Homo sapiens: one gene and its partners. The protein of the gene in region 1 interacts with the protein of each later gene in a biochemical or structural test. Each region holds a gene or a part of one and is shown on either strand. Other genes may lie near its edges. The genes, in order: XIAP, PDCL3, LIMA1, SERPINA12, NOD2, XAF1 and SDHA.

Region 1 (4,565 bases):
TGTGGCTCATGTCTGTAATCCCAGCACTTTGGGACGCCAAGGCGGGCAGATCACCTGAGGTCAGGAGTTGGAGTCCAGACTGGCCAACATGGTGAAACCCCACCTCTACTAAAAAAACTAGCCGGGTGTGGTGGCGTGCACCTGTAGTACCAGCTACATGGGAGGCTGAAGCAGGAGAACTGCTTGAACCCAGGAGGCAGAGGCTGCAGTGAGCCGAGATTGCACCACTGTACTCCAGCCTGGGTGACAACAGTGCACCTTTGTCCCGAAAAAAAAAAAAATTGACACAAGGAAAATATCTGCAGCCTGGGCAACATGGCGCAGCCCTCTCTCTAATAAAAATACAAAAATTAGCCGGGCGTGCTGGCTTGTGCCTGTAGTCCTAGCTACTTTGGGGAGCTGAGGCAGGAGGATCACCTGAGCCTTGGGAGGTGGAGGCTGCAGTGAGCCATGATTGGGCCACTGTACTCCAGCCTGGGCGAAAGAGTGAGACCCTGTCTCAAACAAAACAAAGAAACAAAAATCTGAATTGTAGACTCTTTGTAGATAAGAACATATTTTTTAAAAAAGTTAAGACTAGGGCCAAGTGCGGTGGCTTTCACCTGTAATCCCAGCACTTTGGGAGGCTGAGGTGGGCGGATCACCTGAGGTCAGGAGTTCAAGACCAGCCTGGCTAACATGGTGAAACCCCATCTCTACTAAAAATACAAAAATTAGCTGGGTGTGGCGGTACACCCCTGTAGTCCCAGCTACTTGGGAGGCTGAGGCAGGAGAACCACTTGAGCCCATGAGGCGGAGGTTGCCGTGAGCTGAGAACGCAACATTCAACTCCAGCCTGGGCCACAGAGTGAGACTCCACCTCAAAAACAAATAAAAAGTTAAGACTAAAACAGTTTATAGTGATTAGGAGTTCAGCTGTCTAGTTTTGTTTTTGTTTTGAGATGGAGTTTCACTCTTGTTGCCCAGGCTGGAGTGCAATGGTGCGATCTCGGCTCACCTCAACCTCTGCCTCCCAGGTTCAAGCAGTTTCCTGCCTCAGCCTCCCGAGTAGCTGGGATTACAGGCATGCGCCACCACGCCCGGCTAATTTTGTATTTTCAGTGGAGACGGGGTTTCTCCATGTTGGTCAGGCTGGTCTCAAACTCCCGACCTCAGGTGAAAAAGTGCTGGGACCTCAGGTGAAAAAGTGAGTCACTGCACCTGGCCCAGCTGTCTCGTTTTTAGAAATAGATTAAGACTCAAAAAAAATATTGCCCACCGTAATATATCTGATTATTAGCAAAGCTTGGACTAGAGTCTAGGTTCTAGTCTAGTGGCCCTTGTACTATACCTGTAATTTTATTGCTTTCTAGTGCATTGGATGATTCCAACTAGGCTGACAAAGTAATAATATCTAAAGGTTAGCCAGGACCATTTCAATAGTTAAGAATTATTATTTTTTTCTTTGGTTTTTATTTTATTTTGTCTTCCTTTTTTTTTTCATTTTCAGGAAGTGAGCAGTTTCTCAAAATTATTATAATTAATGGACCAGCTAATTTGTATAGTGCTTAAAATATTTTAGTAACATAAATTTTACTAAATAAATTTACTAATTTAGTAAATAAATGTTCTCCTTTTATTTCATTGTAAACATTAATTTCTTTAGTAAATCCTGTATTTATATTGTAAATGTTTAGCGATAAAATAATGATATTTCACTGTTTTTGTTTGGTCTAATATTTAAGTCTGGTAGGTAGTATTAGCAGAGAGCAAAACCTACAGTTTATGAAATAAACATTCATTGAGCACTTAATGTGTTCCAGGCATTCATTGTAGTATGTGGTAGGATTCCAAGGATAAATATGGCAAAACAAATGCCTTTCTTCTGTTTTTTTTTTTTTTTTTTTTTTTTTTGAGACGACGGAGTCTGGCTCTGTTGCCCAGGCTGGAGTGCAGTAGCGCGATCTTGGCTCACTGCAGGCACTGCCTCCCGGCTTCACGCCATTCTCCTGCCTCAGCCTCTCAAGTAGCTGGGACTACAGGCACCCGCCACCACACCCGGCTTAGAGTGTGTGTGTGTGTGTGTGTGTGTGTGTGTGTGTGTGTGTGTGTGTTTTAGTAAAGACAGGGTGTCACCGTGTGTGTGTGTGTTTTAGTAAAGACAGGGTTTCACCATGTTAGCCAGGATGGTCGCATTCTCGTGTGTGTGTGTGTGTGTGTGTGTGTGTGTGTGTGTGTGTGTGTGTGTGTTTTAGTAAAGACAGGGTTTCACCGTGTGTGTGTGTGTGTGTGTTTTAGTAAAGACAGGGTTTCACCATGTTAGCCAGGATGGTCGCATTCTCCTGACCTCGTGATCTGCCTGCGTTGGCCTCCTAAAGTGCTGGGATTACAGGCGCGAGCCATCACACCAGGCCGCCTTTCTTCTTTTTTTTTTTTTTTTGCTTTTTTATGTTCGTCTGTTTTTATTTTGCTTTTGTGTGTTTGTTTGTTTTTCCATTGTTCTTTTGAGGCTGGGAGATTATCATGAGCTGTCAATTCTCAAGCTTTATCTCTGTGAGATAATCTGGTAATAGTTTTATAAAATGTAACCTGTTAGCACTATTAAAGGACATTGTGTGAGTAGATATGAAGAGACAAACAGTAGTGATAAGATAAAAAATACTTTAGAATTTAACAAATACTGTTTCTGTATCTTAGAGGTCATGTGCTACAGTGTTTGGAAAGAGCCCTACGTTGGGTACCACAGTACAGGTTATTGACTTTGTTTCCAATTAGCTGTGGGATTGTGCATGTCAATGACCCCATCTTTCTTTACATGTTCACATTTTTGATATGTTATTTTAGGTGTTGAATTCAAAACATAAAAAGGGTATTTTAAGGCCGGGCGTGGTGGCTCACGCCTGTAATCCCAGCACTTTGGGAGACTGAGGCGGGCGGATCACGAGGTCAGGAGATCTAGACCATCCTGGCACCCCTCTCTGCTAAAAAAAAAAAAAAATACAAAAAATTAGCTGGGCGTGGTGGCAGGCGCCTGTAGTCCCAGCTACTTGGGAGGCTGAGGCAGGAGAATGGTGTGAACCCGGGAGGCGGACCTTGCAGTGAGCCGAGATTGCGCCACTGCACTCCAGCCTGAGCTACAGAGCGAGACTCCGACTCAAAAAAAATAAAAGGGTATTTTGAATATTTTATTTTATTTATTTGTTTTTGAGACATTGTCTTGCTGTGTCACCCAGGCTGGAGTTCAGTGCATGATCCCAGCTCACTGCAACCTCCACCTCCTGGGTTCAAGTAATTCTGGTGACTCAGCCTCCCAAGTAGCTGGGATTACAGGCGTGTGCTACCACACCTGGCTAATTTTTTTTTTTTTGGTATCTCTTTTTTTCCCCTCGGAGACAGAGTCTTGCTCTGTCGCCCAGAGCTGGAGTGCAATGGCTGCGATCTCTGTTCACTGCAGACTCCGCCTCCTGGGTTCAGGCAATTCTCCTGCCTCAGCCTCCCGAGTAGCTGGGATTACAGGCGCACGCCACCACAACTGGCTAATTTTTGTATTTTTAGTAGAGACGGGGTTTCACCATGTTAACCAGGTTGGCCTCGAACTCCTGACCTCGTGATCCACCCACCTCAGCCTCCCAAAGTGCTGGGATTACAGGTGTGAGCCACCACACCCAGCCTTTTTTGTATTTTAAGTAGAGACAGGATTTCACCATGTTGCCCAGGCTGGTCTTGAACTCCTGACCTCATGTGATCTGCCCGCCTTGGCCTCCCAAAGTGCCAGGATTACAGGCATGAGCCACTGTGCCGGCCTTTGAGTATTTTAAGTTATAAAAGAAATATGTGTTTCTATATATATTATATAATATATATTATACATGATATATAATATATATGATATAAATTATATTATATACAATATATTATATATGATTAATATATAATATATGATATATCATATATAATATCAAAATATATAATATGTATATAATAATGTATGATATATATAATATAGTATATAATATATTACATGTATAATATATTATATATAATATATAATACAATATATGTAAAATATATATAATATATAACACAATATAATATGTAAAATATATTACATATATAATATATATATTTTTCAGACAGAGTCTAGCTCTGTCACCCAGGCTGGAGTGCAGTGGTGAGATCTTGGCTCACTGAACCTCCGCCTCCCAGGTTCAAGCGATTCTTCTGCCTCAGCCTCCCAAGTAGCTGGGACTACAGGTGTGCTACCACACCTGGCTTATTTTATTTTATGTATTTATTTATTTTTCTGAGACGGAGTCTTGCTCCTGACCTCATGTGATCTGCCCGCCTCGGCCTCCCAATGTGCTGGGATTCCAGGCATGAACCACCGTGCCTGGCCAGAGATATGTGTTTATTATAGAAAATTTATGAAATAGAATAATGACGATCATATTGTCTACAGGTTGTTTTAATCCCCCCCCCCCCTTCAACATTCTATAGTTAACATTTCTGTTTTTTTTTTTGAGACGGAGTCTCGCTCTGTCGCCCAGGCTGGAGTGCAGTGGTGCGATCTCAGCTCACTGCAACCT
Region 2 (3,500 bases), on another chromosome or scaffold:
TCCCGGGTTTATGCCATTCTCCTGCCTCAGCCTCCCAAGTAGCTGGGACTACAGGTGCCCGCCACCACGCTCGGCTAATTTTTTGTATTTTCAGTAGAGACGGGGTTTCACCGTGTTAGTCAGGATGGTCTCTATCTCCTGACCTCGTGATCCGCCTGCCTCAGCCTCCCAAAGTGCTGGGATTACAGGCGTGAGCCACTGTGCCCGGCACTCTCAGTCATTATTAAAAATATTGAACACATGCCAAGTCAGAGCCTTGGTATCCGTATTGATACTGATCTGCACTCCCTATCCTAATTTTTACCCCAAGAATAGCTCCTCCATTCAGGGAGGGGTAGACAGGAAAAACAAAACGGGGGCTATGGATCTTTTGACACTTTCTCAGAAATAGTTCACAGACTGGTGTGCATTCCTCCCTTCCTGTCACTTTTCCCATTTGGCCCCTTGCCCAACGTGGCACCCTACATACTAGACTTAGCACTCATGGTAACCTTGGTCCCGCTCTTCTAGGACCCCAACGCAGACACTGAATGGAATGACATCTTACGCAAAAAGGGTATCTTACCCCCCAAGGAAAGTCTGAAAGAATTGGAAGAGGAGGCAGAAGAGGAGCAGCGCATCCTCCAGCAGTCAGTGGGTGAGTTCACTCGCTTTCCTCTGCACCTGTCTGGGTTAGGAGATGGCTCCCTAAGCCTCTGACTGCCCTGCCAGGAGACAGGTTGGAGTGCCAGCATGGACACTCTGTGTCTGTGGGACCTCAGACAAAACACAGGGCGTCTCTCACCTTCACCTTCCTGAGCCATAGACTTAGGGGACTTCAGATATGTCCCACAAGTCCTTGTCCATGTCACATGAGCACTGAAGAAAATACTTCTTTCTGCTTTCTGGTCTGTGATTCCCTTTGATAATGTCATGGAAATTTGTTCAAGGTTTTTAGTACTTGTATTTTCCTGAGCATATACTTTATTTTCTGTGGTTTCATTGAGGATATTAACTAAAAATTGCTTCATTTGGGGAGGCATAAGATGTTTGCAATGTGTGGGAGTCTGAGGGGGGTTTTCTCAAAGGCAGTTGTACTGTCTGAATTGGAGTCCCTTGGAGTGCTGGTAACCCCACCCACCTAGTGTTTACTGAAGCAGTCTCTGGAATGAGGCCCAGGAATCTGCATTTTAAACAAGTGCCTTAAAGGATTCTGATGCGTGTCATAGTTTGAGAAGCACTGGTCCCAGGGACTAGTACTTTTGTCCTCTGTTGACACATTAGAGCTAATTTAGAGAAGGATTTATTAGAAAGTATCCAGCGAGTGCTTACTGCATGATTATCATTGTCAGGTGCTTTTCTGGGGTTGGGGATTTAGCTATGCATAAGCCAGAGACAATTCTCTGCCCTCAGAGAACCAACATTCAAGTGGGGGAGACAGACAATAAACAATAAAGAAAATAAGGCAGTAAAAGGGACTAGAAAGGGTTGGAGGAGAAGCAGGCTCAGAGAGGGCCTCACTGAGATGACATTTGCATGGACCTGAAGGAGGTGAAGCTGGCATTTGGGTAAAGACCTGAAGGAGCTGAAGAACACATTTGAATAGACCTGAGGGAGTTGTTGAGACCTGAAGGAGGTGAAGAAGACATCTGGGTATTCCTGAAGGGGGTGACGTGAGCGAGTGAAATATGGGCCCTGGCATGGCTGGGAATCCCTGAGGAGCTGGAGGCGCTGGGGGAGAGAGTTCAGAGCAGCCTCAGCAGACCCAGAAGCTTCTAGTAAGGACCTTGGCCTTTACACCTAATGAGGCAGGAAGCTTTTGGATGTTTAAACAGAAGAGTGACATTTTCTCTTTTTTGTTTTTTTTTTGAGATGGAGTCTCGCTCTCTTACCCAGGCTGGACTGCAGTGGCGCAATCTTGGCTCACTGCAACCTCCGCCTCCCAGGTTCAAGCGATTCTCCTGCGTCAGCCTCCCGAGTAGCTGGGATTACAGACATGTGCCACCACGCCTAGGTAATTTTTTGTAGCGATGAGGTTTCACCATGTTGGCCAGGCTGGTCTCAAACTCCTGACCTCTAGTGATCCGCCCACCTCAGCCTCCCAAAGAGCTGGGATTATAGGCGTGAGCCACTGCACCCAGCCAAGGGATGCATTAACTTGGAGATCCCTATTAGACAAATAGCCACATTAAGAGGGCCCTTGGGTATGTTTTTCTCTACATTAGAGAAGTCTGGGCTGGAGGCCTATACTTTGGGAGTTGTCAGCATATTGATAGCACTGAAAGCCATGAGATTAGATGCAATCACCGAGGGAGTGGGTGTGGATAAAGAAGAAAAGTAGTCAAAGGTTTGAGCCTGGGGAATTTTAATCAGCAAAGGGTTCAACAGTAGGGCGGCTGGCTCACTCCTGTAATCCCAGCACTTTGAGATGGGCAGATCACTTGAGGTCAGAAGGTTCAAGACCAGCTTGGCCAACATGGTGAAACCCTGTCTCTATTAATGATACAAAAATTAGCTGGGTGTGGTGGCACACGCCTGTAATCCCAGCTACTCAGGAGGCTGAGGCAGGAGAATTGCTTGAATCTGGGAGGCGGAGGTTCTCAGTGAGTCAAGATCGCACCATTGCACTCCAGCCTGGATGACAAGAGTGAAACTCTGTCTCCAAAAAAAGGAAAATAAGCGGGGCAGGGTGAGGCGGAATAGGAGAAGAGAGGGGAGGAGGATCTGAGGGCTTGGGTAAAATGTTGTCAGTCAATAAATTGGGATTACAGGTGTGAGCCACCATGCCTGGCCTCTCAGCTTCTAATGTAGTGTGGTGCCTTAAGTAATTTTTGTTTAGGTAGGCTAAGGATCTGGTGTTGTGTGCATATCTTTAGGAGAAAAGAGAGGGGAAAAAAGAAAAATACATGTTCGTTCATCTTTTTAAATTTTTGCTTTTTGCCAATGTAACCAAATTCAGTGAAAACATATGAAGATATGACTTTGGAAGAGCTGGAGGATCATGAAGACGAGTTTAATGAGGAGGATGAACGTGCTATTGAAATGTACAGGTAAGCGCCACCCAGAGGGGCTGTTTGTTTTTTTGTTGTTGTTTGTTTTGTTTTGGTTTTTTTTTTGGCGTGGCAATAAAATGTGTGGGCTGAGCATGGTGACTCATACCTGTAGTCCCAACACTTTGGGAGGCTGAGGCAGGCAGATCGCTTGAGCTCAGAAGTTTGAGACCAGCCTGTGAAACCCCGTCTCTATAAATAATACAAAAACTAGCTGGGTGTGGTGGTGAACGGCTATAGTTCCAGCTACTCAGGAGCCCTGGAAGTGGAGGTTGCAGTGAGCTGAGACTGTGCCACTGCACTCCAGCCTGTGTGACAGAGCCAAACTCTGTCTCAAAAAATAAAATGAAATGTGTGTCCTTCAAAAAATTAATTTTCAGCTGAAACATCTAGGAGCGACTGCAATTAAATAATATTGTGAATTTTAGCAAACTGATCTTAGATTTTTGCCATAAGACCAATAAATAAACC
Region 3 (4,565 bases), on another chromosome or scaffold:
AGGCATGAGAATTGCTTGAATCCAGGAGGCCGAGGTTGCAGTGAGCCGAGATCACGCCATTGCACTCCAGCCTGTGCAACAAGAGTGAACCTCCGTCTCAAAAAAAAAAAAAAAAAAAAAAATGCCAGGCATGCTGACATACACCTGTAGTCCTAGCTACTCAGGAGGCTGAGGTGGGAGGATCACTTGAGCCCAGGAAGTCAAACAGCTGCAGTGAGCTATGATTACACCACTGCATTTCAGCCTGGGTGACAGAGCGAGACCCCGTCTCTAAAAAAAAATTAAAATAGGATCATGCTGTCTTATAATTTGCTTTCTTCATTCAAAAGTATCCTATGAGCATCTTTTCATGTCAATAAGTATACTTTGATCACATGATAGGTATCTGAGAAAAACAGTGTCCAGTTACCAAGGCAAAGTGCCACTTTGATTGTCAGGGCTCCTGTGTGGTTACAGTAAGGGCAGGTGAAGTCAGAGACCTAGATGACTCATCCATTGTGTGGCACGAGACCTTACAGAGCCAAGAGTGCTGCTGGCAGTTAGGGTAGAACCAGCTTCTGGAGCTGTTCTGTAATTCCTTCTTTTCCAGCAAGAAAACTTTTTAAGCTTCTTATATCTCTGATGCATACATTCTTCCCCCAATGGATCATTTTGTAAGCTAAAATTTAAACACTAGAATCAAGCAGTTCTATAATTTCTTTTCAAGCCTTATTTCTACTTGATGAAGTGGCTTTCAAGAGTATATTCAGAAGAGTAATAGGGTGAGAGACTTAATTCCCAAAATAGCTGCTAATCCTGTTTAATTCCTAGGTTGTTTGTCCTTTCTTTCTTAGTTGAAAGACTGGTGAGTCACAGACTACAGGAGAGAAGGTATTGGAGTTTGCAGTTTGTTGGGAAGGTGGTGCTGTTCAATTTATTTAGGAGTACAGTCCTTTCAAAGTACGGGACATTTAATTTAATTTAATTTTTCTTTTTTTTTTTGAGACAGAGTCTCACTCTGTCACCCGGACTGGAGTGCAGTGGCGCGATTTGGGCTCACTGCAACCTCCGCCTCCCAGGTTCAAGCCATTTTTCTGCCTCAGCCTCCTGAGTAGCTGGGACTACAGGCGCGTGCCACCACGCCCAGCTATTTTTTGTATTTTTAGTAGAGACGTGGTTTCACGGTGTTGGCCGGGCTGGCCACGAACTCCTGACCTCAGGTGATCCACCCGCCTCGGCCTCCCAAAGTGCTGGGATTACAGGCATGAGCCACTGCGCCCAGCCGGGACATTTAATTTTCAACAAGCGTGTTTCCTCTATTATGGAACAACAGTGACAATTTCCAGGTTGTTTTCAGTCTGTCTTACATGTATAAATTAATTCCATTTTTGGCCCTAGTGAAAGTGAACTCTCTTAGATATGTAAATGTGTGTCCTTTGATCATCTGAGTGATAAGTAGTGGTATTTGCATTTGAAGCCTGCATATTTTACAACCAGAGGATCTGTAAAACAGTGAATTTCTTGATAACTGAGAATTTTTTTTTTTTTTTTGGTTGGGGGATGGCGTCTCACTTTGTCACCCAGGCTGGAGTGTAGTGGCGCAGTCTTGGCTCACTGCAACCTCCACTTCCCAGGTTCAAGCGATTCTCCTGCCTCAGCCTCCAGAGTAGCTGGGACTATGGGTGTGCACCACTGCACCCAGTTAATTTTTGTATTTTTTTTAGAGACAGGGTTTCTCCATGTTGGTCTGGCTGGTCTCAAACTCCTGACCTTGTGATCCGCCGGCCTCGGCCTCCCAAAGTGCTGGGATTACAGGCGTGAGCCACCGTGCCTGGCCCTGATAAGTGAGAATTTATACACAGATAAACTTGTAGAGAAGAGCAGGGAAAAAAAAAAGATTAAATTCTTATGAAAAATAAAATTTGACTGCTCATATGCATGTAAATTATGTCAGATATAACTAAATATTTATGCAAATACTTGGAAAGTCTGGGGACTTCTCCAGGGTTCTACAAATTGTTTCAATCCTTGCTGCCACTATCCGTAATTAATGGTATAGTTTCAGCTATCCTGCAACTATCCTGCATCTTTGTCTTATTTAAAAGAAGAAAAAAAAACCCAGCAGAATTTACCATGTTATTTTATGGCAGGTAATGATGAACTTTGCTGATGTGTAGTTACAGTGTTTCAAGCACTTGTATTTTGCTTTTTCTTTCTTGTTTTTTTCCCCATTAATCTTTGGGTAAAAATCTCTTGTTTCGCATGTAACTATCATTAGAGCTGGGTTTGCCTTTCTTCTCATTTTGTCCTTATAAGGCCATCCTGTTTTATCACTTCCTGCTTCAGCTCCTGAGTTTTTCTCTCTTCCCCTCTCCCTCTCCCTCTGCCGGGTGGATGCTTTCTCCATGTGGCAAGGCTGTAACTGTTCACAGCTGTCTGAAACAGCAGTGGACCAGGAGCAGCTTGGAGTTTTAACTTTCATTTTACAAAGAACAACATGTTTGAATGTTTCAGCAGGCAAGTTATAACTGGCATCTACTTCTTGTTCTTCTAGAACACCGAAAATCTCTCCCAGCACTTTAGAAAGGGGACCCTGACTGTGTTAAAGAAGAAGTGGGAGAACCCAGGGCTGGGAGCAGAGTCTCACACAGACTCTCTACGGAACAGCAGCACTGAGATTAGGCACAGAGCAGACCATCCTCCTGCTGAAGTGACAAGCCACGCTGCTTCTGGAGCCAAAGCTGACCAAGAAGAACAAATCCACCCCAGATCTAGACTCAGGTCACCTCCTGAAGCCCTCGTTCAGGGTCGATATCCCCACATCAAGGACGGTGAGGATCTTAAAGACCACTCAACAGAAAGTAAAAAAATGGAAAATTGTCTAGGAGAATCCAGGCATGAAGTAGAAAAATCAGAAATCAGTGAAAACACAGATGCTTCGGGCAAAATAGAGAAATATAATGTTCCGCTGAACAGGCTTAAGATGATGTTTGAGAAAGGTGAACCAACTCAAACTAAGGTAAGAATTGGGCGGGTTTGAAACTTGAGAAAGCCAATTCAAGCACTAAACAAAGCTGTTTTTCCAATCTAGCTATTTTGAGTAGAGGCGAATATGTGGTCAGTATGTCTTTTGATTCCAGTTAGATAAGTTAATAGTCTCAAATGCATTATTTACATAGATGCTAAGATTTGTGAGTCTCTGACACAATTTCATGTTAAATCAGGTTCACACTGGGATTCAAATTGGTATCTAGAAATGAAGAGAGTTTAATACCGATTGGATTATGTGTTTTTGTACACTTGCCCTTTTAAATTGTCTTCCTGTGTTCTTTATCATTTGTAGCTTTGGGGGTGGAATTACTGCTGAATAGCTCTCTGCTTGGACACAGCTGCAGACTGAGTGTTAAGGCCGGAGTTTAACATTAAGACTGAGGCTTACTTGTCTCTGCTAGCTGAATCCCTTCTCTTCTTCTCAACTTCCTCATCTGTGCCTTCCAACAAATGTTTTCTATCAGCTAAAATCCTCTCTCAGGCAAAATCAATGAAGATAGCCAGACTAGCTATAGCTTTCGGGAGTTTTGACTTGCAAATGCACAGGGTTGCGTTTTCCTACAACTGCTAATGAAATTTGATCCTTCATGTGGATTGCAGACCTCGTCCCCAGAGGGAATTACTTAACTAGAAAATGAGTTACATATGCTGGTGATTTATAACACAATCCAGAGGCCACAGAGCTGGTAAATTTTTCCAGTTTTCTCATACTTTCCTATATATCTGGCTTTGTACATGGGGATGGTTCGTTACAACAGTCGTTATAATGAAATAAACAGACCTGATGGGGAGCAAAACCATCTGTTACTCTAGATTCCACCTAGATGGGAAAGCTGGATTTTTTTTAAGCTAAATATTTGGCCCAAGTCCCTATGTTTGGAAAGTAATATAATAATATTAAGCATTCTTTCTGAGATAAAAAATAACTCATCCTGTAGTCTTCAGTTATATTAGATGTGATATTGTCAATCCCTTCCCATGACTTGCAGTGCCAGTCACTTTTCTACTTAGAATTAGAAAAGTTCTTGAATGTTTGCGGGTCATGTTTGAAGTTGTGCGAGTTTTTGACGATGTGTAAAGCTACAACACTTCTCTGTGCATGAGCTTTAGCTCTACTTTAACAGTGAAACCAGTTGGCAAGAGATGTAACCACAAAGCAGTTTTATAACGTTTCTTAACTCTCTTCCCTCTCAAGTTTTTAGACCTTTAGTCCTGCCAACTCCTTCTTTCCCCTTTATGGTTTTAATTTAAAAATTTGTTTTATTTAAATGGGAAGAAGAATTTTAAGTGGAAGGAAAAAATGTCAGAAATCCTAAATAGAGAGGAAGGGGTTTTGTTGTGACTCAAAGCACCATTGTAAGTCTCCTCCTCCCAGACCCTGCTAGGAACAGGACAGCTGATGTCATGCCAGTACACACAATGTAGATTCAGTGCAAAAGGCTGCTGCATGTTGAAACTGGCCAAAGGTAGGAAATGACTGGGACTGTAGCAGACAAAAATGCTGATTATGTGTAAGGATATGGTGAGACACTTTT
Region 4 (4,239 bases), on another chromosome or scaffold:
CTTATACCTGTGCTCACAGCTTAGCTCCCACTTATGGGCAAGAACATGCAATATTTGGTTTTCCATTCCCGAGTTACTTTAGTTAGAATAATGGCCTCCACCTCCATCCAAATTGCTGTAAAGGACATTATTTCATTCCTTTTTATGGCTGAGTGGTATTCCATGGTGTGTATATACCACATTTTCTTTATGGATTTATTGTTTGATGGGCACTTAGGTTGGTTCCATATCTTTGAAATTACGCAACATGTGTGTGCATGTGTCTTTTTCATATAATGATTTCTTTTCCTCTGGGTAGATACCCAGTAGTGGGATTGCTGGATGAAATGGTAGCTCTCCTTTTAGTTCCTTAAGGAATCTCCATACTGTTTTCCATAGGGGTTGTAGTAATTTACATTCCCACCAGCAGTGTAAAAGTGTTCCCTTTCACCACATTCATGCCAACATCTATTTTTTTTATTTTTATTTTTTACTTTTTAATTATGGCCATCTTGTAAGAGTAAGGTGGTATCTCATTGTGGTTTTCATTTACATTTCCCTGATGGTTAGTAATGTTGAGCAAATGCTCTTTTTTTATATCCTCTGTTGTTCTGCTCTTCTACCAGCATCTAGATCTGGCTTGAATGACATTTAGCACGGACTTGGGTCTATATTATTTTAAGTGAAATTGATTGACAGCATGACTTCCAATAGTTTGGCTCTCTCAGGCAACCACAGATCCAATGCAGTCTCCTATTGCCCATTGTACAGGTGAGTACACTGAGAACCAGAGGAAGGGATGGCTTCTCCAGCCACCAGGTGCATTATGAGTCACCTATGTCTGGTACCCAGACCACAGGCCCAGGCCCTGAGACGTCCCAGAGCTCGGGAGTGGGGTGGGGTTGGATGGATGGGCTGCCTGCTCCCAGGCTGCACCTGGGAGGTGAGAGAGGGCCATGTGAACATCTGTGCCAGGCGGCTGGTATTCTATAGCAGTGCCAGGGTGCCCACACCCATTCCTGTCCTGTCCCAGGGAAGGAATCTGGGGTGGACGATTCTGCTCAAAGATGATCACAGGGATCAGGGCTGTGGAGCTGGGAGGGGATGGCGTGTGTCACTCTGGTTTCTGGTGCACTCACTTTTATGAGGTTTACTGGGTGCCAAACACTCAGGTCCTAGCAAGCCAGGCCCTCATCAGTGAATCTACAGAGCACCTTGGGTGTACCTAGCACAGTGCCCCTTGCTATTTGGGATGGGAGAGAAAAAGTAGGCCTGATCTTTCCCAAGGGGTGAGGAAGGGAACTCCCAGACGCATTGCTCTCTGAGTGAGACACTTGGCAGGGCCAGTTGGCCAGGCTGATCCTGGGAAAGGGGTGGAGGTGGCAGAGGCAGGCTTAGTAGGTCGTTGGGCAGAAGTCCACCCAGTTTGTAGATAAGGCTTGTGGGGCTGGGAGCCTAGAGGAACATACCTGGAACCTGAAGGCTGCAGGACCAGGACCGAAAAAGGACTAGGAGGCTGGGATCAGCAACAACTGGGGAAGGCCAAGGAAGACTGACCTGAGGGGAAAGGAGAAACTGGGGAGGTGAGGTTAGTCCAAGGGGCAGTGTGTGTGTGTGTGTGTGTGTGTGTGTGTGTGTGTGTGTGTGTGTTGTCTGTTTCTCTGTCTTAGAGAAGACAACCAAGGGCCAAGGTGATCACTCAAATAGACAGACATTCTGCGTCCTTCTCATGCCTAGCCCTAGGGCTGGATCACCAGTCTGGCCAAGAGTTCCATGGGTCTGTGCTGGCTGCCAAGATGCTGTGGCCATGCTTTCATTTATGGTCTACCAGAAAGCTATCCATGGAAAAAGGGATTCAGAACCAGAAGACCTGATTTTTGAGTCCTGAATCTGCTAACTGTGCAGCTATAGGAAACTCAGATTTCTCATGTGTAAAAATGGGTCTAGCAGCACCCAAACTTGCAAAGTTGGTATGAAAAATACATAATGTCTATGAATAACCGTATCTACTAATATGTGCATGGAAGTACCCTGTTCTGCAGAGACAAAGACAAAGAAGAAAATAAGATGAGGAAAATCAAAGCTGGCCCCCACCCACAATGTTTCAATGCATATTTACCCAAATTTTTTACTTTTTGCTGATTGAGAAACACATGTGGTTACTTATTGATATATATAAGAACTCTTAATTGTTAAGAACATTAGCTCTCTATCTTGTACACATGTTCCAATTTGTGATTCCAAATTTTACATATTCTGTAGAGTTTTAACACGTTGCAAAAAGATGGTATATCCATATATGCCATCTTTTCCTACATGGTTTCTGGCTTGTGTATCACACTTAGGAAGTTCTTTTTCACTCTAACATTATGAAAAGGTTTTATTCCAACACTTGTAATTTTATTTTTGAAATGATTTGTTTGTTTCCTAATAGCATTTATGGAATTGTTCACCTTTTCTCGAATGTTCTGAAATGCCATCTTGAATTTTTTACTATTTACAGAATGCTTCCCATTAAAAAAAAATTTTCTAAATTTTCTATTTCTCTCCTTTTATTTCTTACTTGTTTAGATTTTTGTGTGGAAAGATTTTCAACATTTTGTACTAGAAGCTTTTTAGGGTAACCTAGGATCTTACCGGAGATTGCTTAAAAATATTTTCTTTCAAAATCAATTATTATTAATTTTAAATCATTTATTGATTAAGCTCCCCAATTGGAGTTGAATTCAATGACTGAAAATACATTGCATTTACTCAGTCTTTGCCTTATTGCTTGGAGGTACAGTATAATTTGTTCTAGTGGGATTTGGGCTTTGCAGTGTTTCACACTCTTGGTCACTGGCTCCCATAGCTGTCTGTCACAAGCATCAACTGGGGATCCTGTGGAAACCAAAGAAGAGTGGGGACACCCAGGGAAATGCAAAGTATGATCTGGGATGGTGGCCAGGAATCTCTTTCTCTCTCTCCCTTCTCTACTATAAATGGACATCTGGGTTGTTTCCACTTTAGGTCTATCACATAAAGCTGCTATGGACATTGCAGTACATGTCTTGGTAAACCCACAAGCACTCATTTCCTGTTGGGCATATACCCTGAGGTACAATGAATGGGTCAAAGGGTAAGCATATGTTTACCTTTTATAGATCCTGCCAAGCAATTTTCCAATCAACACGTTGGTGTCGGTTTGCACACCCACCCGCAATATAAGAGAGTTCCACTTGCTCCACGTCCTCGTGTGGCTGGTCCTTTTAATCTGAGCTATTCTAGTGGGTGTGTAGTGAGTTCTTCTTGTAGTTTTGTTTTGCATGTTTCTGATGATTAATGATGTCGAGCACCTTTTCAGCTGCTTATTGGCCATTTGGATATCTTCTTTTGTGAAGTATTTGTTCATGTCTTTGCTTAGTTTTTAAGTTGTTGTCTTTTTTCAGTCGATTTGTAGAAGTGCTTAAAAACAGGCATGAGCCTTTTATCAGACACAGACATTACACGTACCACTCCCAGCTTGTGACTTGCCTTTGTACTGTCCTAGGTAATTTTAGAGGAACAAGGCTCTTAATGTTAATGAAGTTCCATTTATCATTTTGTAAAAATGGTTAATACTTTCTGCCTATCTCATGGTCACAAAGATTGTCTACTATTAATATATTTTCTTCTAGAAGCTTTATCATTTTGATTCTTGTGGGTTTTGAGGTTAAAAAATATTAAAGACCAATAGTTTCATATAGTCCAATCTAATACCTTTCACATTTAGGTCTGTGACTTCTCAAATTAATTTTTGTATGTTGAGTAAAATAGTCACTATTTATATTTTTCCTGTATGGACATCCACTGGTGTTTTGTTGTTGTTGTTGTTGTTTTCATCATTCATTGAAAGGATCATCCTTTCCTTTGAACTGTAGCGATGCCCTTGTCACATATCAGGTGACTTCCTGTGTGGCTCTGTTGGATTCTCTAGTCTGTTCCATTGGTCAGCTTGTCTGTCTCTGTTCCAATACCTTAATACTGTGGCTTTACAGCCATCTTGATACCTGGTGGCTGAATGCTTTAAAAGACCTGGGAATCATCAGGTGGGAATCACTTGCTTTGGAGTGGGATTCTCAACCTTGAGTACTCATTAAATCCCCTGGAGAGAAGTTCTTAAAGGCACCCTCACCCAGGATTTATCCTGCATCAACTAACTCAAAATCTCTAGAGGAATGTTCTGAAAATAGGTATTTCTAAAGCTCCTGGATGATTGTAATGCACTCCCAGGATGGAAAC
Region 5 (4,565 bases), on another chromosome or scaffold:
CTTTAGATGCCACTAGTATAGTTTTCTGACATGTTCTGGGCAGCTTCAGATTATGTCAGGGAGATAAAATACTGAATGTTTGATTTTCCCGGGAAGCAGAAAGGCACTGCAACATATGGGCATTGCCATAAACAGATTTTATGGATGGACCTTGGCTGTTGCAGGGCTTACTAGCTCTACTCAAGTATGATTGATTCTATCCTGACTGGATTTTGCCACTTGGAATTTCTTAGTAGAGGAGAACCTTGTTATGAGAGCATCAGTTATGATTACTGTTAAAAGAAAAACTTTAGGCAAATTAAATTTAGCAGAACTGGTTTGAACATACAGCAATTTATGAATTGGGCAGCATTCAGAACTGGGAGTGCTCCACCCAGCAAGGTAGGCAAGCAGTATCTATAGACAGGAAAAGGAAGTGATGTACAAAACAGCTTGATTGGTTGCAGCTGGGCATTTGCCTTATATGGGCATGGTGTGATGAGGCATTTTCTTTATATGGATATAGACTGATCAGCTGGTAGACTGTGACTGACTGAAGCCTGGCTGCTGTGATTGGCTAAGACTTAGCTGTTTGTTATAAGGATATGTTGTTAGGTTGCAGTTTGCTACATAGGAACTCAAAGTACAGAGGCAGTCTCAGGCCAAATTTAGTTTAACTATATGTTAAGCTGCAGGTGACAGAATACCTCCATCTATAGAGGTTTAAACAAGGAAAGGGTTTATTTTTTCCTGTATAGGCAGCTGGATGTAGGCAGTGTAGGGTTTGTACAGTGGCTACAAGAGGCCAGGAGGGGTCTCAGCTCTGTCTCATTCTCTTCCTGTTCCATCATTCTTAGCCTGTGACTTCATTCACATGGTTGGTTGTCTCATGATCACAGGATGGCTGCTCCAGGTGCAGCACTACTTCTGTATTCCCGGATTCGATCTATATACCCAGGAAAGCCATCTGGGTTCTCTCCTTTAAAAAGCATTCCTGGAAGCCCCACCTGTCGACTTCCCCTTATGTATCAACCATGTGTATGTCACTTGACCAACCCACTTGTATGTTGTTTGACCAGCCCTGGCTGCAATGGAGAGTGGGAAATACAGTTTTTTCACCAAGTGCATGGCTGTCCAAATGAAATGAGACTTCCATTAATAAGGAAGAAAGGAAAGATGGAGATCAGGAAGCTGGGGGATCAGGGAACTTATTACATTGAGAGCCCTTGGAGTGAATTCTCTTGCAAATATGTCCCTGGAATTGAGAATCCCCACAACGTACTTTATCTGTTCTTTCTTTATCCATGAGTTTGGGTTTTCAGATGTTGGATTTCCTATATGGGGGGCATGTGAGTTCATCATCTTCCATAATCAATGTTGTATCAACTGGATTTTCTCTCTTCTTCTCACCAGCCTGGAGGAGAACCATCTCCAGGATGAAGGTGTATGTTCTCTCGCAGAAGGACTGAAGAAAAATTCAAGTTTGAAAATCCTGAAGTAAGGAACCCATAAGCAGGAAACAGGACAATAATTGCTGGCCTTTGGAAGGGGCATTTCTGAATAAGATCTGGGCCGCTCTCCGCTGGGCTAACTCATGTGAGGTGGCCTGGTAGAACAGCTTGCCTTGGTCTAGGTGGACAAGGATTCCAGTGCAAGTTGTTTATCTGGGAGGTGGTCCCAGTAAATGCTGATAGGAGAGTGGTGAAGTGAGATGGGGAAGTGAAGGTAACCAATAAAGGGGAGTTATCAAGCCAGTTATCAATGAGGGAAATTGGAGCTCAGTACTCTGGGGCACTCCTGGAGCCAGTGCAGAACACACATGGTCACCTACCCAACCAATGGGCAAGAAAGCCATGGCATTTATCCACCAACCCTCTGTCCTTCCTATGTTGATGTGCGCTCATGGGGCACTGATTCTCCAGCACTTCCAGCTCACCCTCACCCAGCTGAACATGCTTCTGGGGTCAGGAGAATGGCCTCAGGCAGAGAGTGGAAGGTCTTCTCTGCAAGCAGTGGCTGGGGAGGTGATGTGATGGGGAGTACTGTGGCCTCCTCCAGTGGCTGACTCAGTGGCTTGGGACTTGTGCCACAAAGAGATGGACAGCTCAGGTGAACATGAACCCACCTAGTGACCATCATGGGTTTGTCAGGGTGCTCTCTGAGGCTGATGCCAAAATTCTTATTTCAAGTAGACCTCAGGAACCCCATCAGATGGCTCCTTTTGCTGGAGGAAAGTGGCATCTGCCTAGGCAAATGTGGTCCTAGGAAAACGCTTGCCTTTAGAGACAGACAGACAGACAGCTGCCTCTGTGAGTGCCAGCTTTGCTGCCAGGCTGCTACCCACTCTGGCGACACTCATTTGTGTTGCTTTCACAAGCTAGGAAGTTTCCAAATATTTGGAGAAAACACTTCCACTAATTATTTGGGTGGAAATGGGCTGGGAAGTTGGGGTGAAGCCCGGATGTGTCTGAGCCAGATGCCAGCTTTGCACTGAGGGTCGGCCTTTGGGAATACCAAGCCCATTATCAACCAGGTGTGGATATGGCAGGTTTGTCTTCCCTCCTTGTCACAGCCTTACTCCACTTGACTCCCATGGATGCCAGGCAATGAGGCTGGGGTTGGTCCCATGCCACCCTGTCATCAGCCTTATTTTTCAGCATCCTAAACTATATCATCCCCCACAAAAATTGAACTTCTGATATATCTTTTATAAAAAAGAGAAATGCCTACATCTTTCTTTTCCAGGCTTAGTTTCTGCCAAGAGTTGGTTGAGAGCCCAGGCTTGCTGGGTGCAGTGGCTCACACCTGTAATCCCAGCACTTTGGGAGGCTGAGGCGGGTGGATCACCTGAAGTGGGGAGTTCCATACCAGCCTGACCAACATGGAGAAACCCCATCTCTACTAAAAATACAAAATTAGCCGGGCGTGGTGGCATACACCTGTAATCCCATCTACTCAGGAAGCTGAGGCAGGAGAATCACTTGAACCTGGGAGGTGGAGGTTGCCATGAGCCAAGATCACACCATTGCACCCTAGACTGGACAAGAGAGAAACTTCCATCTCAAAAAAAAAAAAAAAAAGGATGAGAAAAATAATAATTTAAAAAAAAGAGTCCAGGCTCTGGAACCAGACAGCCTGGGTCTTACCCCTGCTCCACCATTACCAGCCAGTTCTTCTTGGATGAGTGCCTCAGTTGCCTCAAGTGTAAATGGAGATAATGGCTGGACCTTCATTATAGGCCATGAGCATTCACTGAGAGAATGTAGCTAACAAAAGTGAGTTGTAGGTTGGAGCAAAAGTAATTGTGGTTTCAGACCATGAACTTTAAATTATTATAACTAGGCTAAAATACATCTTTATTAATCAAAATAGGAACCATTAAAATCAACACATTTTTGCCAATAAGAAATAAGTTTGTTTATTCCTGTAGCATAAAAATTCATGCTTCGGGATTCAACAAACTCTTGGAAAGCATTTTCTGCATCCTCCTGGTTGTGGAAGCATTTTTCCTGCAGAAAGTTGTCAAGATTCTTGAAGAAATGGTAGTCAGTTGGCTAGAGGTCAGGTAAATATGGCGGATGAGGCAAAACTTCATAGTCCAATTCATTCAACTTTTGAAGCTTTGGTTGTGTGACATGCAGTCGGGTGTTGTCGTGGAGAATTGGACCCTTTCTGTTGACGAATGCCGGCTGCAGGTGTTGCAGTTTTCAGTGCATCTCATTGACTTGCCGAGCATACTTCTCATATGTAATGGTTTCGCAGGGATTCAGAAAGCTGTAGGGGATCAGACTAGCAGCAGACCACCAGTGACCATGACCTTTTTTTTTTGGTGCGAATTTGCCTTTGGGAAGTGCTTTGGAGCTTCTTCTCGGTCCAACCACTGAGCTAGTCATTGCCAGTTGTATAAAATCCACTTTTCATCGCACGTCACAATCAGATCAAGAAATGGTTCGCTGTTGTTGTGTAGAATAAGAGAAGATGACACTTCAAAATGACGATTTTCTTGGTTTTCACTCAGCTCATGAGGCACACACTTATCGAGGTTTTTCACCTTTCCAATTTGCTTCAAATGCTGAATGACCATGGAATGGTCGATGTTGAGTTCTCAAGTAGTTGTAAGAAAATCAGCTTTGATGATTGCTCTCAATTGGTCATTGTCAGCTTCTGATGGCCTGCCAGTACACTCCTCATCTTCAAGGCTCTTATCTCCTTCGCAAAACTTCTTGAACCACCACTGCACTATACGTTAGTTAGCAGTTCCTGGGCCAAATGCATTGCTGATGTTGTGAGTTGTCTCCGCTGCTTTACAACCCATTTTGAATTCAAATAAGAAAATTGCTTGAATTTGCTTTTTGTCTAACATCATTTTCATAGTCTAAAATAAATATAAAATAAACAGAAAGTATTAAGTCATTAGCAAAAAATCATAAAGTGAGAATTGTGCATTAAAATGATGTATAGCATAACCACATTTATTTAAGAATGTATTCCAATATCAAATGGCAAATTTCAACAATGCAAAAACTGCAATTACTTTTGCACCAATCTAATAGAAGTTCAATAAATACTGGCAATTACAATTGGCA
Region 6 (4,565 bases), on another chromosome or scaffold:
AAATGGAATCCTCTCTGCCACAGCTTGGCCCATCTCAGTTGATGGCAACTCTATCTTTCCAGTTGTTCAGGCCAAAATCTCAGGTTCACTCTCGACTTCTCTTTCCCTCCGCATTGCTACCCTGGTATGAACCATCATCTTCTCTAGCCCAGATGCTGCAGCAGTCTCCTAAACGGTCTTCCTACTTCTCACCTTGCCCCCTACAGTCTATTCTCATCACAGAGGTCAACGTGATCCCTTAAAAATACAAGTCAGATTGTTTGGCTCCTCTGTTCAGATCTCTGTACTGATTCTTGCCCCATTTTATGCAAACTCAAAACTACAGTGGCTTTAGAGATCTATGTCATCTTTGCCTCCCTTCTTATCTCATCACCTCTTTGATCTCATGTACTACTCCTGTTCAGCTCACTGGCCTCCTGATTGTTTCTTGAGCATACCATGCCTTAGGGCCTTTTCACTGGCTACTGCCTCTGGCTGGAAGCTACCTCCTCACCTTCCCCACCCTACTCCAGGAGCTAACTCTCTCACTTCTCTCAAGTCTTTGCCCAGATGGCACCTTCTCAAGGAGATGTACCACAACAACCTATTTAAAATTGCAACTCCCTCTCCATCACATATTTACCAACCCCTTACCTTCTTCTATTATTTTTTCCATAGCATTTGCCAACTTCTAACATATTATCTAATTTACTTACTTATTATGGCCCTTGTTAATTGTCTCCCACGACCTCAGAAAAACTATAAGCCCCACTGGTCCCCTTCATGCTAACTACTCCCCAGACACAAATACTCTACTTTTGCTTTTAGCTGTTTCTTCTGGTAATCACCTTCATATGTCTAAAGCACCTTCTTATATTTTTTCCAGTTTTAGATATTACTTATTGACTCATAAGGATTTAGGAATATAGATTTCACTTTTTTATACCACCCATCCCACACACACACCTCCAAAGTTCTTCATTTCATCCTTCCAATGTATTGATTTCACTCATTCTGGTTAAATAAATATTCAGTATTACATTAGTATAACCATGTAAACATTATAAATGGTTTTCCACATGAATTGTGATTATGTGTTCTTTCTCCTACAACTTTTTGTTTTACCTGGACTTAATAATTGCTTCGGTTTTTCATTTGCTTCACTTTCTAGGTACCTATCACTAAATCATCCCTAAAATTCTCTACCAGATCTGAAAATTCCCCTGAGTACAACTACACACATCAGATAGTCTGTCCATTTCATTTTGGGAGCATGTTATGCCCCAGGCTTGATGATTAGCTGTTGGTCTGGAATTTCTTCCACTCTCTCCACGGTTGGAGTTCTGATTCCCAAATCTCAGGTCTCATCTTTCTCTTTCTTAGGTTACTCCTTGTTTGATAGAACATATCCCCAAATAGTTTCTTGAGAAAGAAAGCATGAGAGGCAAATTTTTTAGGCCTTATATGTCTGAAAATGAAAGCTTGGGTGGCTATAGAATCTATTGACCATCTTAATCTGTTTATTAAAAATCTTATTACAATTCTGATTTGGCCACTACACACTGTATACATGTATTAGAAAATCATTCTGTATTCTATAAGTATGTATCATTATTACTTGTCCACTAAAAATAAAAGAAATAAAATTGATTACAAAAACTTTCAAATAAATATGACAGTAGAAAGTTAATACAATAAACATTCATGTATTTACTCCCCAGATACAACAGTTGTTGTTCTAAACAAGGTGAATAAAAATAAATCTACTCTTAGATACATTACAGGTAAAAGGCAAAGGTTGATTTCTTTGAAATCAGCCGAAGAAGATTACAAGCAAAGGAATGGCAGTTAGGCTGAAAGCAAATATATCGACAGCAATAATAGAAGTGGGTATGCAGTGGAATAATCTTCAAAGTGCTAAGAGAAAATAGCTGTTAACACGTGGAAATCAAAAGTTTTCCAGGCTTGAACTATACTTTGTTTGTTTTCTTTTTTCTAAAGTATGTTAAAGCAAATCCAAGATATCCTGTTATTTCACCATCATTCTTTAATATCTCAAAAATACAGTCATTTTCTTAATCACAATGCCTTTATCACTCTCAATGATGTTAACAATAATTTTCCCCCATCGTTTTGGGGCCTTGCATTTACCACTCTTGTTCATTACTACTGCTGCTGCTGCTGCTGCTGCTGCTGCTTGCTTCTCCCTTGTATTCTATTGGATTGAGCAAGATTTCTTTATTCTCTTTCTTCTTTCCTACTGATTCGTCAATTTTACATTTATTTCTATCATTTCAATAGTTACCCTTAACATTTTAATATAAATACTTGACTTAATAAAGTCTAAAGTTAGTCATTATCTCTACTTTCCTTACAAATAGTATATAGATTTGAGAACATGTTAACACTGTAACTATCTTACATGAAAATGCTGCCAGAATTTTGTTTCATTTTGCTTTCATACTACCCCTCTTTACTGATTATTGTTGTTATTTATGTAACTCATGCCTGTTTAGATATACTCACATGTTTTTGTTTTTGCTTTTTTTCTTTCTTTCTTTCTTTTTTTTTTTGAGACAAAAGTCTCACTCTGTTGCCTGGGCTTGAGTGCAGTGGCACGATCTTGGCTCACTGCAGCCTTCGCCTCCTGGGTTCAAGCAGTTCTCCTGCCTCAGCCTCTCAAGTAGCTGGTACTACAGGTGTGTGCCACCACGTCTGGCTAATTTTTGTATTTTTAGTAGAGATGGGCTTTTCCATGTTGGCCAAGCTGGTCTTGAACTCCTGACCTCACATAATCTGCCCACCTCGGCCTCCCAAAGTGCTAGGATTACAGGCATGAGCTACTGTGCCCGGCTGGATATACTCACAAGTTTACCCTTCTCTTTACTCACATTCTTCCTTGGATCCTAAGCTTTCCTTCTGGGTATGATTTCTCTCTTCCTGAAATACATCTCAGTAGCTTCTTCACCAAGAACCTTGAGTAGTAAATCTTTAGTTGCCTGAAAATAAGCTTTTTGTTTTTTGCATCCATGAATGATAGTTTAGCTGGATATCAAAATCTAGATTAACAGCTATTTTCTCTTATCATTTTGAAGATTATTCCACTGCCATCCCACTTCTGTTATTGCTGTTGATGTATTTTCTTCCAGCCTAATTGCCATTCCTTTGTACGTAATCTTTATATTTGGTTGATTTCAAGATCCTCTTTGCCTTTTACCTGTAACGTGTTTAAGAGTAGTTTTATTTTTATTCATTCTGTTCAGAACAATGTACTCAAATGTGTTTGCTTTTCTCCTGCTCAGGATTTCTCTTTCCTTAATATAAAGATTTATGTCACTAATCAGGCCTGAAAATTCTCATCTATTATCTCTTTGAATTCCCAACATTCCCCAACTCTCCCACATTCTCTCAACTCTCCTTCTGGAACATAACACATGTATATTAAGCATTCTCATTCTAGCTTCATGACTCTCTTTTTTTTCATGACTCTCCTTTTTTTTCATTTCTCTCTTTTAATCGCCTTATGTCTCTTAACCTTTCATATTTTCTCTATTTCTATCTCTTATATTCTGGGTAATTTCCTGAAATTATCTCCAAGTTCATTCATTCTTTCTTGGCCAAATCTAATTTTCTGTTTTTAGCCCATCCATTTAGGTTCAATACCTGCATTTTTCATGTCTAGAAGTTCAATTTATCTTTCTTTCAAATTTGCCTATTTTTGTTCTCACTACAAAAAAAAGATAGGTATGTGAAGTGATTGATATGTTAATTAACTTGATTTAATCATCCCACAATGTATATATATATTAAAATATCACATTGTACCCCATAAATATATAAAGTTATTATTTGTTAATTACAAATTAGAAAATTTCAAATTTACCTGTTCTGTTTTTCATGAGATGTTATTCTTTTCCCAGATTTAATCATTTTTAATTAATTTATTTTACAGTCTCTATCCTATAGTTGCATTACCTGAACTTCTTGGAGGCTAATCTGACTACTTTTGTGTCTGTGACTCTTACTCAAGGTGGATTGCTTCCTTGTGTGTTTGTAATTTTGGATTGTGAGTTTCTATCTGGTGGGACTCTACCTATGAGGATCCTCTATGACCTATTTTGAGGCTGTTGTCCCTCCAGAGGAATTTTGTGATTGCTTCTGCCAGACATCTCAATGTTTATGTTAATTCTTCTGCTCAGGGATTCCCAGACCATGAGGCCAAAGTAAATCCTAATCCCACACACAGGAATGGCATGGACCTGTGATTTTGAGTTTTCAGGGGCATAAGTTTTCATCTCCACACTCAAATACCGACCCAAGAAAGAAAAGCTTCCTTGCCACTTTCCTTTTCTCATTAGCTGATACTTTTCCTCTTACCCACCATAATTTATCCTTTAAAGTTTCCAGCTTTATGCAGGATCAATAGAGTCTTACTTCCAAATCCCCACCTGTGTGGATGGGACTTTCCTGTCATCCAAGCCCCTAGTTACAAAGTTGACCCTACATCTCCCATAAGCAGTGTCAACTCCTGTGCTTAACCAGTCCATTTGTGCTGCTATAACAGGATGCCACAGACAGAGTAATAA
Region 7 (4,565 bases), on another chromosome or scaffold:
GGACACCTGCAGCAGGCTGTGATCCCTGAGACGAGCGTGAGTTTAGTGAGGGCAGAGTTTTTGTTCTGGTTCTCAGCTGTGTCCCAGCACCTGGGATTGTCCCTGGCACACAGTAGCTGCTTAGAAAAGATTTGATGAGAGGGTGACCATACATGAGGGGAAATTTTCCTCAGTATCAAAACATGTTGAAACTCACACACTTCCAAGATGACGTATTCTCAGGTCTCCTGCCGTTGCCGTTCTCTGCCGTATGTGATGGTGTTCTGTCTTACCAGAGGCTGTGGCCCTGAGAAAGATCACGTCTACCTGCAGCTGCACCACCTACCTCCAGAGCAGCTGGCCACGCGCCTGCCTGGCATTTCAGAGACAGCCATGATCTTCGCTGGCGTGGACGTCACGAAGGAGCCGATCCCTGTCCTCCCCACCGTGCATTATAACATGGGCGGCATTCCCACCAACTACAAGGGGCAGGTGATGGTGCTGGCTCCTCCCCCACAGCTGGAAAGAAGGCTGGGACGACGGGGCCCACCTCGCAGTTGTCTCTTTAGATCTTACAGGAAAAGATAGATGTTTCCTTCAAGAAAGTACTGTATTGTTTTCTAGATTGCACTTTAAATTTCTATTACCGGAGGATGGAGGGGGCTTAATAATTTATTCCTCCTTAGTAAATTGTCAGAGATACATCATTTGCAGCTTTTTCCATTTTGTAATTACTTTCCTATATGATCTTGTGTTATTTCTAATGATCTTACACATCAAGGGATCTTTATAATTCATTCCTTTGAGTGGTTTGTGGTTCACACAGAGCTTGTCAGTCACTTAGGCTCCTTGTTGGGCGAGGTGGGTGGAAGCTGTTGCTCTCCCTGCGTAGACGAAGAGGTGAACGGGGTAGAACAGTCTGGAACATCAGTCTCCCCTGCTGATGTTCCTCCACCTGCCGTGCTCCTGGGTCTGAGCCGGAGCACAGGTGGTGAGGGCCCCGGGAACATGGGACACGGGGGACAGTCGCAGATGCTGACATTGGAGGTCCTCTGACCTGCTTGTAACAGCAGGTGCTCAGGGGCAGAGGGGAAACTGGGGGATACCTTCGGAAGCTTCCCTCTGAAGAAGAGTAGCTATGGTCCTTACTTCCCTCTTAGATACGGTCTTTACTTCCCTCTCTTTTTTTTTCTTGGAGATGCAGTCTCACTCTGTTGCTTCGGCTGGAGAGCAGTGGTGCGATCTCAGCTCACTGCAACCTCTGCCTCCCAGGTTCAAGTGATTTTTCCGCCTCAGCCTCCCTAGTAGCTGGGATTACAGGCACCCGCCATTATGCCCCGCTAATTTTTGTATTTTTAGTAGAGATGGGGTTTCACCGTGTTAGCCAGACAGGTCTTGAACCCCTGACCTCAGGTGATCACCCACCTCAGCCTCCCAAAGTGCTGAGATTACAGGCGTGAGCCACCACGCCTGGCCTACTTCCCTCTCTCTGACCTGCAGCACAGACACCCTGTTGGGGAAGGTGGGCTGGTGGAGGCATGGGCACCTTGACATTTCACCTGAAATCTTCCTTTCCACAGGTCCTGAGGCACGTGAATGGCCAGGATCAGATTGTGCCCGGCCTGTACGCCTGTGGGGAGGCCGCCTGTGCCTCGGTACATGGTGCCAACCGCCTCGGGGCAAACTCGCTCTTGGACCTGGTTGTCTTTGGTCGGGCATGTGCCCTGAGCATCGAAGAGTCATGCAGGCCTGGTAAGTGTTTTCTTCAGGAGCCAGACTATTTGAGAAGGCGCAGGACGTTAGAAAGTCTTTTTTCTTTTTTTTGAGAAAGGGTCAGCCCAGGCTGGAGTGCAGTGGCACAGTCATAGCAGCCTCAACCTCCCGGGCTCAAGCAGTCTTCAACACCTCAACCTTCAGAGTCCCAAGTAGCTGGGACTACAGATGTGCACCACCACACCTGGCTAATTTTTAAAAAAATTTATTTTGTAGAGACAGGGTCTCACAATATTGCCCAGGCTGGTCTTGAACTCCTAGACTCAAACAGTCCTGCCTCAGCTTCCCAAAGTATCGGGATTACAGGCATGAGCCACTGCACCCAGCCAGGTTACAAAGCCTTGATTTCTTACTGGAAATTTGCTTAGTGATCATATAGAGGTAGTCTGGGTTTTTCCCCCAGAAGTGATTAAACTGAGAAATCCAGAAATTATATGGTGGTAATGTTGAGACTAGATAGAGGCTGGTTGGGGATCTTAACAGTTAAGGTGACATTTTTGGGGTTACATTTTTTTTTAATTATTTTGCAGTCATTATGTTCTGTTTAGAAAAAGCACTATTAGAAAGTTGTTATTTTTAGGGGAATCATTACATATTACTTGCCTGATAAAAATCACTTATTTGCAATGAAATATTTTAAGTAGTTGGCATGAATGAATATGTAACTTCTTGGTACTTAGAAAAGTAATTTAGGCCATTCTAGAAACAAAGTACAGCTAGCCTCTATTAGAGGAGAAGGGATGACTTACAGTGAACAGGATTCCCACCCTTTACGGACAGATTGGATTTCACTTGCTGGTTTTCTTTTCATGATAGCATCAAATAATGTGCAGTAAAGGAAATACCATGTGTGGGAGTGTGAGTCTTACGTGCACTAAGAACGGGGCAGTTAGCATCTCTCCCACCTCCAGACATCCTCACGGTGGTTATCCAGCCTCGTGTGCTCAGAACAGTGTGAGGTGGATGAGGCACTGGTGGATGTTTGCGTGGCAAGGATGGTGGGACCCCAGGCCCATGTTCTTCCCGTTACCTTTCTCTGGTGTTAACTGTTAGCATCATTTCTGCTGTTTTTATACAACAGGTGCTTTTTGTATGGATTCAAGTGAAATAAAAACTAGCACGGCTGTAACTTATAAACGTGCCCCCTTTTGTATCTGTAGTTAGAAAGGTGCAGATAGTATTAAAAGGGTAGCTTACTTCAGACACTCTGTCTCTGGATCTGACCACCGCTCGGGAGGCCAGCACACGCAGAGCTGGCGTCTCATCCCCAGCCATTGGTGATCATCGGCGAAGGCGGAGTTCAGGTCCATCGTTCCTGACGCCGCAGGTAGTGCTTGTCTCACTCCATAGCCCTGCACTTTGTCGCAGTGAGGACTGATACCACTTCTCTCAGAGCAATGTAGAAATTTTGAGCTGCTCTTTCTTTGAAAATGCAAAAAAGAACATTTTGTAAGAATACCCTATACTTTACATCTGAGAAACCGCCCACGCATGCAGCATCTCACGCAGAATGCTGTGGAGTCAGACTCAAAAGGCTGCATGCCTGTGGTTCTGTTGATACGACATTCTGGAAAAGGCACATCTAGGGAAGACAAGGGATTGGTGGTTGCCAGAGGCTGCTTCCTGATTGTGCTGAGACTTACAGACACAACTCTGTGTGTGTCAAAATTTGAAAAACCCTACACTAAAAATGATGAGTTTATTTTACTGTATCTTTATGCTTTAATTTTCAAAAATGAAAAGGAAAGAAAAAATGCTTGTAGCATCACTATTCTCCCCCAAAACCCCCTGCAAAAAAAAATACATATATATACACATATATATGTATTTTTTTTTTTTAAGAGATAGTCTCCCTCTGTCGCCCAGGCTGTAGTGCAGTGGTACGATCAGGTGCACACCACCACACCTGGCTAATTTTTAAAAATGTTTTGTAGGGACAGGGTCTCCCTGTGTTGCCCAGGATGGGCTTGAACTCCTGGCCTCAAGTGTTCCTCCTGTCTCAGCCTCCCGAAGTGGTTACATGCGCCTATACATGTGTTAAAATTGGTAGAACTGAGGCTGGGTGCAGTGGCTCACGCCTATAATCCCACCGCTTTGGGAGGCCGAGGCAGGCAGATTGCTTGAGCTCAGGAGTTCGAGACCAGCTTGGGCAACGTGGTGAAACCCCGTCTCTACCAAAAATACAAAAATTAGCTGGGCATGGTGGCTCACACCTATGTAGTCCCAGCTACTTGGGAGGCTGAGGTTGGAGGATTGCTGGAGCCTGGAAGGCAGAGGTTGCAGTGAGCCAAGATCACACCACTGTACTCCAGCCTGGGCAAGAGAGGGAGGAGACACTGTCTCAAAAAAAAGAAAAAGTAAATTGTAGAACTGTCCACCTAAAGAAAAAAGTCAATTTTACTGAATGATCAATTTTTAAAGCATTATTATCAAAAGGAAGAGAAACACCAGCGAGCCTAGAAGCATTTGAGCAGACCCTCAAGAGACCCATAGCCTGGTCCTGTGGAGAGGTGGTGGGCGGGGTGGGGCCTGTTTGACTCCTGCATTTCATACATCCTACCTCCTGCATGTATTACCTGTTGAAGAAAATATATATAACGTTATAAAAAAAACTTAAAAACTTTTTTCAAGACATCGTAGAAACACAAGAGTTGCAAATCTTGGCTGTGCGCAGTGGCTCACACGTGATCCCAGCACTTTGGGAAGCCAAGGCAGGTGGCTCACCTGAGGTCAGGAGTTCTAGACTGGCCAACATGGTGAAACCCATTTCTACTGAAAATACAAAAAATTAGCCAGGTATGGTGGCATATTCC

What was found.
Region 2: the proteins of XIAP (region 1) and PDCL3 are reported together in a solved structure, tested with the Homo sapiens proteins (one study listed by BioGRID).
Region 3: the proteins of XIAP (region 1) and LIMA1 form a complex in vitro, tested with the Homo sapiens proteins (one large-scale study listed by BioGRID).
Region 4: the proteins of XIAP (region 1) and SERPINA12 form a complex in vitro, tested with the Homo sapiens proteins (one large-scale study listed by BioGRID).
Region 5: the proteins of XIAP (region 1) and NOD2 form a complex in vitro, tested with the Homo sapiens proteins (one study listed by BioGRID).
Region 6: of the proteins of XIAP (region 1) and XAF1, one has a biochemical effect on the other in vitro, tested with the Homo sapiens proteins (one study listed by BioGRID).
Region 7: the proteins of XIAP (region 1) and SDHA form a complex in vitro, tested with the Homo sapiens proteins (one large-scale study listed by BioGRID).

The regions. Positions count from the first base shown.
Region 1 is NC_000023.11:123,862,589-123,867,153, forward strand, and holds part of XIAP (E3 ubiquitin-protein ligase XIAP), read left to right. Parts: intron 1-4,565.
Region 2 is NC_000002.12:100,565,993-100,569,492, forward strand, and holds part of PDCL3 (phosducin-like protein 3), read left to right. Parts: intron 1-510; coding exon 511-637; intron 638-2,938; coding exon 2,939-3,029; intron 3,030-3,500. UniProt on the Homo sapiens protein: Acts as a chaperone for the angiogenic VEGF receptor KDR/VEGFR2, increasing its abundance by inhibiting its ubiquitination and degradation.
Region 3 is NC_000012.12:50,220,454-50,225,018, reverse strand, and holds part of LIMA1 (LIM domain and actin-binding protein 1), read left to right. Parts: intron 1-2,360; exon of another isoform or gene 2,361-2,384; coding exon of another isoform or gene 2,385-2,496; exon of another isoform or gene 2,497-2,533; coding exon 2,534-2,998; intron 2,999-4,565. UniProt on the Homo sapiens protein: Actin-binding protein involved in actin cytoskeleton regulation and dynamics. Increases the number and size of actin stress fibers and inhibits membrane ruffling. Inhibits actin filament depolymerization.
Region 4 is NC_000014.9:94,506,670-94,510,908, reverse strand, and holds the start of SERPINA12 (serpin A12 precursor), read left to right. Parts: upstream 1-1,439; 5' UTR 1,440-1,567; intron 1,568-4,239. UniProt on the Homo sapiens protein: Adipokine that modulates insulin action by specifically inhibiting its target protease KLK7 in white adipose tissues.
Region 5 is NC_000016.10:50,724,097-50,728,661, forward strand, and holds part of NOD2 (nucleotide-binding oligomerization domain-containing protein 2), read left to right. Parts: intron 1-1,392; coding exon 1,393-1,476; intron 1,477-3,318; exon of another isoform or gene 3,319-4,354; intron 4,355-4,565. UniProt on the Homo sapiens protein: Pattern recognition receptor (PRR) that detects bacterial peptidoglycan fragments and other danger signals and plays an important role in gastrointestinal immunity.
Region 6 is NC_000017.11:6,765,589-6,770,153, forward strand, and holds part of XAF1 (XIAP-associated factor 1), read left to right. Parts: intron 1-1,763; exon of another isoform or gene 1,764-1,865; intron 1,866-4,565. UniProt on the Homo sapiens protein: Seems to function as a negative regulator of members of the IAP (inhibitor of apoptosis protein) family. Inhibits anti-caspase activity of BIRC4. Induces cleavage and inactivation of BIRC4 independent of caspase activation.
Region 7 is NC_000005.10:234,869-239,433, forward strand, and holds part of SDHA (succinate dehydrogenase [ubiquinone] flavoprotein subunit, mitochondrial), read left to right. Parts: intron 1-275; coding exon 276-471; intron 472-1,559; coding exon 1,560-1,731; intron 1,732-4,565. UniProt on the Homo sapiens protein: Flavoprotein (FP) subunit of succinate dehydrogenase (SDH) that is involved in complex II of the mitochondrial electron transport chain and is responsible for transferring electrons from succinate to ubiquinone (coenzyme Q).